2 linked regions of the Homo sapiens genome follow. The protein of the gene in region 2 interacts with the protein of the main gene of each other region in a pairwise test. Each region holds a gene or a part of one and is shown on either strand. Other genes may lie near its edges.

Evidence for each region. Proteins that work in one complex are often made in the same cells at the same time.
Region 1: the proteins of PPIG (region 2) and CACNA1A interact in a two-hybrid assay, tested with the Homo sapiens proteins (one study listed by BioGRID and IntAct).

Annotation. Positions count from the first base shown.
Region 1 is NC_000019.10:13,499,066-13,504,413, forward strand, and holds part of CACNA1A (voltage-dependent P/Q-type calcium channel subunit alpha-1A), read right to left. Parts: intron 1-5,348.
Region 2 is NC_000002.12:169,600,439-169,605,900, forward strand, and holds part of PPIG (peptidyl-prolyl cis-trans isomerase G), read left to right. Parts: intron 1-3,203; 5' UTR 3,204-3,256; intron 3,257-3,587; 5' UTR 3,588-3,603; coding exon 3,604-3,664; intron 3,665-3,748; coding exon 3,749-3,823; intron 3,824-5,462. UniProt on the Homo sapiens protein: PPIase that catalyzes the cis-trans isomerization of proline imidic peptide bonds in oligopeptides and may therefore assist protein folding. May be implicated in the folding, transport, and assembly of proteins.

The DNA.
Region 1 (5,348 bases), on a different chromosome or scaffold from region 2:
GGGGTACCTAAATTCTAAACCAAAAGTTGAGCAAAGTTTTTCTGTGGAGTTTGCAGTGGACACCTGGGGTGGCCATCCTGGGCTGCACTCTCGACCGGCCCCAAAGGAAGAGACAGGGAGTGCAAAAGGGGAAGAGGGAAGCTAATTATATACTTTAAAACTCCCTCACCTTGTCACCCACAGAGAGAGGGAGGGACCAAAGGAGGAAAGAGAATTAATTTTTACCTTAGACTCAAGGGAATAGAAAAATGGGTCAAGTGGCCACGAATTTTTTTTCCCCTGAAAGCTTCCAGAGAGAACGGAGAATGCAAAATGTCCAAAGGTGGCTTTAAAGAGCGCCACGATCAGGTTAATCAATCCACACTGACCAGTCGCAGGGGGTGGTGGGGGGGGGCACTTCGCTCCCATTCCCACCCAGAAAGCCTCTTTTCTGGCCGGTTTCCAAAAAAAGAACACTGGAACCTAAATGACTCCATAGTATTACGGCTCTGGCGTTTTGGGGTTTTTCTCTGTGCTGGAGACTGTGCTGGCCATTTTTCACGCACGACCCCATTTAATCTCCTGAGAGCCCTCCAAGGGAGATGCTACTAGAAGGAATATCCTCATCATGCATGTCAAGAAATAGGCTCTGGTGCCCAAGATAACATGGCTGGTGAATAATGTGAACCTGGGCCAGTCTGACCCAGAGTCCGGAGTGTTTTCCCTCTCCTCTCTGCCCTCTTTCAGAGCAGGCACCATCCCATCCGGCCCTTTTCTCAGGAGCTGAGCTGGCATTCTCGGAAATGCGTTACTGCACGGCTCTTAGGCTCTGATCATTTCTGGATGGAGTCCACCTTCCCGGCGGTGCTTTTTATTGCTGAGAAAGTGTATATGTGTGCTTGCTACTGGGGGGGAAACAGGGAGGGGGAAGCATAAGCCCTACGCACCCAACAGATGCCTCCCACTCCAAGTCCCTGAAGAAAGACTTCATTCTCAAGGGGCCGCTGCATCCAATCTACTCAAGCACTAACATTTCAGAAACTTTCATTGGTCTGATAATCTCATGGACAGTCTCTCAACCCCCTGCAACTAAAACCCATCAAAATCCTAAAACGTTGGCACAAGGGTAGATCAGATAGATGTTATACAATTTAGTTAATGGGTGAAGACAGGTACCTTTTCTCATTTGCTCAGCAAACGTTTATAGGACGCCTGCTTTGTCCCACACACTGGGGTTGCAGTGGTGAAGAACAGGGTAAAGATCATGGGTCTCACAGCCTCAGAGCTTGACTTTTTCCTGGGGAATGGTAGAACTACCAGGGAGGGGTGGAACCCCACCCAAGAGAACCCCTTCTTTCTCTCTCTCTAGTGCAGGCACATAGCTTTGAATGACATCCTTAATCTTTCTTATTTCTCTGACCGGGATTTAACACTATTACTTCCACTCCTTTCCATAGATCCACATCCTTAATCCTAAGCCATCGAGGCCAGACGTGCTTTGGAATTCAGAACTCAGGGCTTTTAGACGCATTGCAAAGATGGGAATGTAAAATGGTACAACCACTTAGGAAAACAGTTTGAGAGCCTCTTATAAAATTAAACATACACCTACCACACAACTCAGCAATCTCACTCCTGGGTTAATTTACCCAAGAGAAATGAAATGTATGAAATGAAATGTTCCCACTAAAACCCATAAGCCAATGTTTATAGCAGCTCTATTCATAATCATTGAAACTGGAAGCATCCCAATGTCCTTCGGCTGGGAAGCAAACTCTGGTCCATCCATATCATGGAATCCTGCTCAACACCAAAAAGGAAGGCGCTACTGTCACAGGCAACAGCATGAATGAATCTCAAAGTCTGAGTAAAAGAATCCACATTCAAAAGGCTATATACTGTGAAATTACATTTATATGACCTTCGGCAAAAGGCAAAGCTGTAGGGATGGAGAACAGATCAGTGGTTGAAGGGGCTGGAGAAGTGGGGTGCTGACTCAAGAGGGGCACTGTGGGGGTATTTTAGGGTTGATGAAACTGTCCCATATCTTGATTTGGGTGGTGGCCACAACTACATCCATTTGTCAAAGCTTGCAGACCAGTATGTCAAAAGGGTGAATTTTGCTACAAATAAATTATACATCAATAAATCTATTTTTTTTTTGAGACAGAGTCTCAAAAAAAAGTACAGTGGTGCAATCTCGGCTCACTGCAACCTCTGCCTCCCAGGTTCAAATGATTCTCCTGCCAGCCTCCCGAGTAGCTGGGATTATAGACGCACAATACCACGCCTGGCTAATTTTTGTATTTTTAGTAGAGACGGGGTTTCACCATGTTGGCCAGGCTGGTCTCGAACTCCTGACCTCATGATCCACCGGCCTCAGCCTCCCAAAGTGCTGGGATTATAGGCGTGAACCACCAGACCCGGCCCCTATAAACCTGATTTTTAAGGAAAAGAAAAATGATAACAAGATGTCTCTATGATCTAACCTGGATACTCCAACCCTAGCCCATGAACTTACCACATGGGGAATCCCTAGAAGCTAGCTAGAAAAGCAGAATCCCAGACCCCACCCAAATCCTGCTGGACCAGAACCATCCTGTTAACAAGACAACTTCCATACACCTGAAAGTTTGACAGGACTACAATGCAGACCTAACAGTCAGGAGCTGAAGCAGCACCTCATCATCAAGCACATCTAACATTTCTGCTGCAAAACATACTCAAATGCACACCAAGTAGAATGAATGAAAACTGTAAATTAAGACTTCAAACTGAAGTCAGTTCAGGTTAGGTTTTACCTCTATATGAGCTCGTCTTTTGGTTTTTGGAGCTTTTTGGATTGGGGAATTGTGGATAAGAAATTGCACCCTTTTTGAAAATACTCCCATTGGAAAAGCCGTGCTAAATTTTACTTCGCAGAATTTTGCTCCTCTGGAAATACCAGCCAAGCCGGTCTAGTACAAGGATCACGTAAGTGACACCATCCTGCCCTCTACGGCAGTACCTTCTAGAACATTCTATCTCTCAGGACAGGCCAAGAGTCTGATAACCTGCTCCCATGTCTCCCAGCGCTTCTCATGCAGAAAGTTTCTCTTTAGAGAGCTTTTCTTAAAAAAAAAAAAAAAAAAAAAAATGAGAGGAGTGCCAATCAGCCAATGTCCACAGATGTCAAAGTGATGTCACCTGATGTCAATGTGACTTTAGGTGTCTTGTTAAGATTTCTGCAAACCGGATGAAAAGCTGGAATTCTACGTGTAATTCAGGCAACTGTGCGTGATAATACACTGACCTGCTTCCAGTGTTCCTCCGATGGCCTGAGTTTCTACATCATGTTCAGTGGGAGACCTGGTGGCACAGGGAGGGCTGGAAAGATGACATTCACCTTGGCACTTGGTAGAAGGAGTGAGTGGCATTAAGTGGGGAGGGAACTCTAGGAAGGCTGACAGATGCTCCTTTTTGAGCTGACAGATCTGAGCTCTTCGGCAATCATCAGAGACCCTCATGGCCCTATTTGAATCACAATTCCAGTCAATGAAAACATGAAACCAAGGTGTGTGGTCAAGACGGCTTGCTGCCTGGCATGAGAAAAACACGGCAATGTAAATTTGAACATCAAAGACTTCCATTTGGGTTTCCTCACTTAGGAAGAGGGGAAAAAATGAAATAAATGAGGATTCTTAATTGTCATTGATGGCTTCAAGTTTGACCCACTGAGGGATGAAAGAGGAAGAAATCATAGTGACAAATTGCCCCGAGTGTGGAGAAAGCAAGACTGCATCCTTCACCAGTGTACCATGCCAGAATTTACATTTGGAAGTAGCACTCTTAGGCCCTGTGAGCATACCGACAAGTTCATGGATCATTCACTCACTTCTCTTAAACAAGACAGGGAGGAACCTGCTTTCCATATCGACCTGCAACCCTTAGTCAACACCATTTCCAAATACACATCCCACAACACATGCATCAAAAAGTAGCAGGGGCGATTCCACTCCTATCTAAGAGAACTGTGGGAAAAAAATAATAGAAGACACAAGAATGTTCCCAGTGGCACAAACAGAAATGACACAAATGCCCATCAACAGTAGAATGGATAGATTGTAGTAGAGTCACATACACAGATGTGAGCAAAAGAAGCCAGTGGCAAAAGAACGTACTGTGTGACTCCATTTACATGTTTAAAAGAGGCAAAATGAACCTTAGAAGTCAGGTGAGCGGTACCCTTGTTGGGGGAGCAACTAGGAGGCGGTATGGGGAGGGGGACTTCCAGGGCACTGATCGGGACCTGGGTGCTGGATACGTGGGTGTGTTCATTTTGTAAAAATCTATGCATCTGAATATATGTACTTGCCTGTACATATATTAGACTTTATTTAAGTACCTACACACTTTTTTTTTCACTCTCAGGATATGCTGAAACATTTTTTTTTAATGGCAGAAATATTTAGATTAAAAAGTAGAATGTTCTGCCCTGGTATCGTGACTCTGACATTCCACGTGTCTTTCTCTTTACACTGGCCTGAATTCTTTTATTCACTACCTCCCTCCCCAGGTCTCTGTCCATCCCCTCTCATCTCCAACCCTCCCACCCACCCCGCCACCGCCCTCCGCTCCATCCAGGACAGAGAAAGCTCAGTCCTGGATGACCCAGCTCGATGACAGATTGTGAGGTGGGGAGTTTTCCCTTCCAGAGTAGGGCTGTATAATGTGTTTGTTACCTCGGGTCAAAGAGAACAAAAACAGTCTGCAGAGAGCATAATGCACAAACTCATCATAAGAGCAAGAAAGCCCCGGGCGAGCTGGCCAGAGAATAGATGAAGTGGCAAGCAACACTCGCAATTCACCTGCCTCCCTCTCCCACGATTCCCCCTTCCGAGGGGCCACTGCAATCCCCCTCTCCCCCAACAGCCCTCCAATCTGCAGGATTCAGGCTGGACAGAGGTAAGCTAAGGACACAGCAGAAGGGCTCCCCACCTCCTTCCTTTCCTCTTAGAAGTCTCCAAATCCAGGCTCCAGAAGGCGATCTAAAGCCATTTTCAATGAGGAAACCTGTCAGCCGAGCAAAGCCCTCTCACTCCTGGAGCTAACTGGGTGTGCACCCATGAATACCCTGTCCTCCTGCAAGGCACTCCCACTCCTCACTCTGTTGATAGGCAGAGTAATCAAGCCACCCCTGAGCACTTCAATGGGCCTGGGATGGTGAGGAATTGCTAACCTTAAGAACCAGCCTCTTTAAGAGTCTGAAACTTAGGAAGCAAAGACCTGGCACCTGCTTTGGGCACCAACGGAGATGGCATCGTAGTTAGAGGTATGCTCCCCTCAAAAGCACCTCTGCTGAACTTCTTAATTTTCCCCACCCTCAAAGT
Region 2 (5,462 bases):
ACCATATTATTGCGGATTTCTGACTTTTTCAGATTTTGGAATGTTTGCAATATACTTACCAGTTAAACCTTCCAATTCTGAAAATCCAAAATGCTCCAATGAGCATTTCCTTTGGGTGTCTTTTTGGCACTCAGAAAATTTCAGATTTGGGGTTTTCAGATTTAGGATGCTCAATCATGATGTAGTAATCATGACAGTGAGACACTTTAAAAATGTCATTGAAAAACAAAAACAAAAATAAGAAAAAAGAAAAAAATATATAATTGAAGATTTAAATTACATGCTTACCTGAGTTTCTTTCATAAGTCTGCTGTATACAACCTAGGAAATGCAAAAACTAAAATAAAAATCACCTATAACTCATTTACTTAGAGATAGACTCAATATTTTCATTTATTTCCTATTTTGTTTTACTGTGCAGATACATTTTAAACTTTTATGAATTTTAAGTTGAAAAACTAATACATGAACATATTCTTATTGCAAAAATTCAAACCTTATACGTAAAGCTGAAGGCCCCCAATGACTTCCATTCCTAGACTCAGTCCCTTTTGCAGAGATTCTGTGAGGAGTTTGGTATATATAGTATTTTCAAGATCTCTCTTTGTAGAAATAGGGTATTGTTTTATGGTGTTAAAAGAAATACTTATGTACAATTTACTTTTTTGTTTCTTTTGAACTAAACAGTAGGTTTCTTGGCTTGTGTTACAATGAAACTGCCATATAGTATTAAATAGCATTTTATACCGTAATTTGTTCAGTTTCTCCCCATTGTAAGATATTTTGAGTGTTTCCATTTTTTTGTTGTTGTTACTGCAATTTTACATTCTCACTTATGCCTATCCTCTCACATTTATTCATTCATTTAATAAACACTGATTTCTTGTCATATGCCAAGCACTGTTTGAGCAGTAAGAATAAGACTGAAAATTCAGGTTTATCACATCATGGAACTTATATTCTAGTGAGAGAAGATGGATATAAAAATTGAATATCAATTAGCAATAAATGCTTGGAAGAAAAATAAAGCAGAATAAGAGGATGTAAAGTGTTAGGAGGATGAGAGCTCCTTTCTTGAATACAGTAGACTAGGAATGGGCCTCTATAAGAAGGTGATACTTGAGCAACAAAGGGATGAACCATGTGAAGATGGTTTGAGAGCATTCCAGGTGGAGAGAACAGCAAATGTAAAGGACCTGATGAAAGAGTAGGCTGTTGGGTGGCAGGGGGAACAAGCAGGATACCAATGTAGCTGAAATAAAGTTGAGGAAAATATTAGAAGATGTTAGGAAATGAAAGTTGAGGAAAATGCCTAGAGGTGAACAGGAGCTAAAATATTTAGAGCCGTATAATTGAAATTACAGTAGCCACAAGCCACATGTGCTTTTTGAGCACTTGAAATGTGGCTAGTCTACATTGAGATATGCTTCAAGGATAAAATATACACTGGATTTCCAAAGACTTGTACAAAAAAAAAAAACTCAGTAACATTTTTGTTTAGTATATTTTGAAGTGGTAATAGTTTGGTTGTACAAGTTGAACATCACTAATCTGAAAATCTGAGGTCCAAAATGTAAACTTTCTGAGCATCACAATTGAAAATTTCACACATAAGTACTTAATACAAACTTTGTTTCATGCACAAAATTATTTTTTAAGTTGTATAAAATTACACATACAATTCAGGCTGTATGCATAAGGTATGTTTGAAATATAAATGAATTTTGTGTTTAAACTGTGTCCCATCCCCAGGATATCTCGTGTATGATAATATTCCAAAATTCAAAAAAAAAATCTGAAACACTTCTGGTCCCAAGCATTTCCTATAAAGGATATTCAATCTGTACATACTGAGTTAAATAGAATATATTAAAATTAGCCTGGTTTTTGTTTGATTGTTTGAGTCTCGCTCTGTCCCCCAGGCTGGAGTGCAGTGGTGCAGTCTTGGCTCACTGCAACCTCTACCTCCCGGGCTCAAGCAATTCTCCTGCCTCAGCCTCCTGAGTAGCTGGGATTACAGGCACCCGCCACCACAGCCGGCTAATTTTTGCATTTTTAATAGAGATAGGGTTTCACTATGTTGGTCAGGCTGGTCTCGAACTCCTGACCCTGATCCGCCCGCCTCAGCCCCCCAAAGTGCTGGGATTACAGGCGTGAGCCACCGCACCCGGCCCAAAATTAGCCTGTTTTTGTTTGTCAAAATGTGGCTACTGAAAAATTTTATACCTGGGTGGCTCATGTTTTTATTGAGCAGTGCTGGTCTAGAGCCTTAAAATCCATGCTAAAACTTTTCAGATGAATAGTAAGACAGTTTTAGGCAGGGGAAGGATATGATAAGGTTTGTGTTTTAAAAGAATCATTCCACTCTGGCTATTTTGTGCAGAAGAGGCAGTACAGAATTAAGAGTAAAATAAGAGAAACCAGTTAGGAGGCTATTGGAATAGCCTAGATAAGAAATGATAATGGTAAAGGTAATGAGAACTTTTGGGATAGTTTTTGAAGCTAGAGCCAAATTACCTTCCTAATGGTTTGGATAATGAGGTATGAGGGAAAGTGGAACCGAAGATGACCCCCAGGTTTTCAGCCTCAGCAGCTGGCTTGGACAATGATAATGTTTACTGAGTATTCAAGGGAATGGAGGTAGAAGAATAAAGAGTTTTGTCTTAGATATATTAATTATTTTTAATAAAGTAAATTTTTATTGAAATATAACATAGCGTACATAGCATATGAAACTGTCATTTTTAGAGTCCATCATTTTGGATACTATTTACACTTAGTGCCTTTGTTTCTTCTACGGGTAAGTATCATCTTCCACCAAGTATTACGATTCAGCATTTTAAGTCCTTAAAATAAAATGCCTTATCAAAATAATGTCTGTTAAATAATAGCTTTCTGTTATGGAAATAAAGCTGTTACACAGAGTATCTCTTTGGTATTTTTTGTGTCTATACCAGCATATCAGTAAAGGCTGTTGCTCAGAATCAGCAAGTACCCTCATATGTAAAATTGAATGTGCTTTTACTCAAAATGTAAATCTACCACATATACTATTTAACAATAGTTAAATAGTATATTAACTATATACTATTTAACAATAGTTAAATAGTATATTAACTATATACTATTCTTTTTCTTCTTACATGATTTTTGCTTCTTAAAAATCTCACATTTTAATCAGAACTCTCATTTTTGTTTTCTAGGAGCACAGGGATCAGTTGTCCTTGTTTTTTTTTGGTCTTTTCTTCATTTGAAGGTAATCTGCTTATTGAGTTCACTAATCATACAGAGTAAATACAATTTTCTGTTTGAGCTATTAATCTGTATTCCGGTTGATAAATAGAAAGTTGATTACATAATAATGGTTAAGGCTTAACTTTCAAGTCTTTTCTAATTGCTTCACAAAATGCAATCTAATCTCTAAAAAGAAAGCACTAATAATCCATGTGATTTACCTCATAGAAATAAATATCAAAATAAATTCAAACTATATTTCTAATATTGTTTCACAGAATTTTTTTTCCAGAAATTTGTGAAAGATCTTTGCTATTTTAGTCTGCTTGTCTGAAACTGTATTTTACTCACAGATTAAGTATTGGAGCCATGGGAATAAAGGTTCAACGTCCTCGATGTTTTTTTGACATTGCCATTAACAATCAACCTGGTAAGAATATTAGTTGACATTTATAAATGGGTGTTTAATATTTTAAATTAGTAAAGAAGTTTAACCAACTACCTTCTTTTTCAGCTGGAAGAGTTGTCTTTGAATTATTTTCTGATGTGTGCCCCAAAACATGCGAGAACTTTCGTTGTCTTTGTACAGGTTTGTTCACATTTTCAACTGCCCTAATAGTAGTCTCAGTTGACTATGGCTTGCTTGCTTGCTTGGTTTTTTTTTTTTTTTTTTTTTTTTTTTTGAGACAGGATCTTGCAACGTTGTCCAACTGGACTAGAACTCCTGGGCTCATCAATCCTTACACATAAGCGTCCTCAGCTGGGATACAGGTGTGAGCTACCACACCTGGCATAGCTTGCTTTAATTTTTTATTTACTCTATTTTAGATTTCTCCATGCATATTACTTTTCTCTTAACATGAAGATTACACAGCAGTGACTAGGGCGTGAAAGTAATTCTTAGAAATATTATGGCTGGGCAGCCAGGCGCAGTGGCTCATGTCTGTAATCCCAGCACTCTGGGAGGCCGAGGGGGGTGGCTCACGAGGTCAGGAGTTCCAGACGAGCCTGGCCAAGATGGTGAAACCCCATCTCTACTAAAAATACAAAAATTAGCCAAATGTGGTGGCGCACGCCTGTAGTCCCAGCTATTTGGGAGGCTGAGGAAGGAGAATCACTTGAACCCGAGAGGCAGAGGTTGCGGTGAGCCGAGATCGTGCCATTGCACTCCAGCCTGAGCTAGAAGAGCGAGACTCCATCTAAAAAAAAAAAAAGAAAGAAATATTATGGCTGGGCACGGTGTGGCTGGGCATGGTGGCTCACACCTGTAATCCCAGCACTTTGGGGGGCCGAGGTGGGTGGATCACTTGAGGTCAGTAGTTCAAGACAATCCTGTCCAACATGGTGAAACCCCATCTCTACTAAAAATGCAAATAATCGGCCAGGCGTGGTGGCTCACGCCTGTAACCCCAGCACTTTGGAAGGCCAAGGCAGGCAGATCACCTGATGTCAGGAGCTTGAGACCAGCCTGGCAAACATAGTGAAACCTCATCTCTACTGAAAAAATAAAAATTAGCCAGGCGTGGTAGTGGGTGCCTGTAATCCCAGCTACTCGGGAGGCTCAGACAGGAGAATCACTTGAACCCTAGATGGAGGTTGCAGTGAGCCAAGATCGCACCATTGCTCTCCAGCCTGGGCAACAAGAGTGAAACTCTGTCTCAAAAAAATAAATAACAAAAAATCAGCTGGGTATGGTGGTGTGTGCCTGTAGTCCCAGCTACTCTGGAGGATGAGGCGGGAGATTCGCTTGAGCCCAGGAGGCGGAGGTGGCAGTGAGCCAAGATCACTCCACTGCACTCCAGCCTGGGCGACAAGAGTGAGATCCTGTCTCAATTAAAAAAATAGAGGCCAAGTGTGGTGGCCCATGCCTGTAATCCCAGCAGTTTGGGAGGCCGAGGTGGGTGGATCACTTGAGGTCAGGAATTTTGAGACCAGCCTGGCCAACATGGTGAAATTCAGTCTCTACGAAAAAAAAAATTAGCCGGGTGTGGTGACAGGTGCCTGTAATCCCAGCCACTCAGGAGGCTGAGGCAGGAGAATCACTTGAACCCAGGAGGCGCAGGTTGCAGTGAGCCAAGATCGTGCCACCGCACTGTAGCCTGGGTGACAGAGCTAGACTCTGTCTCAAAAAAAAACCTAAAACCAAACATTAGTTGTAAAGGTATATTATTTGAGAGTGATTTCTACATTCTCCAGAAATAACGTGGGTGATTTTTTAAATGAATTTT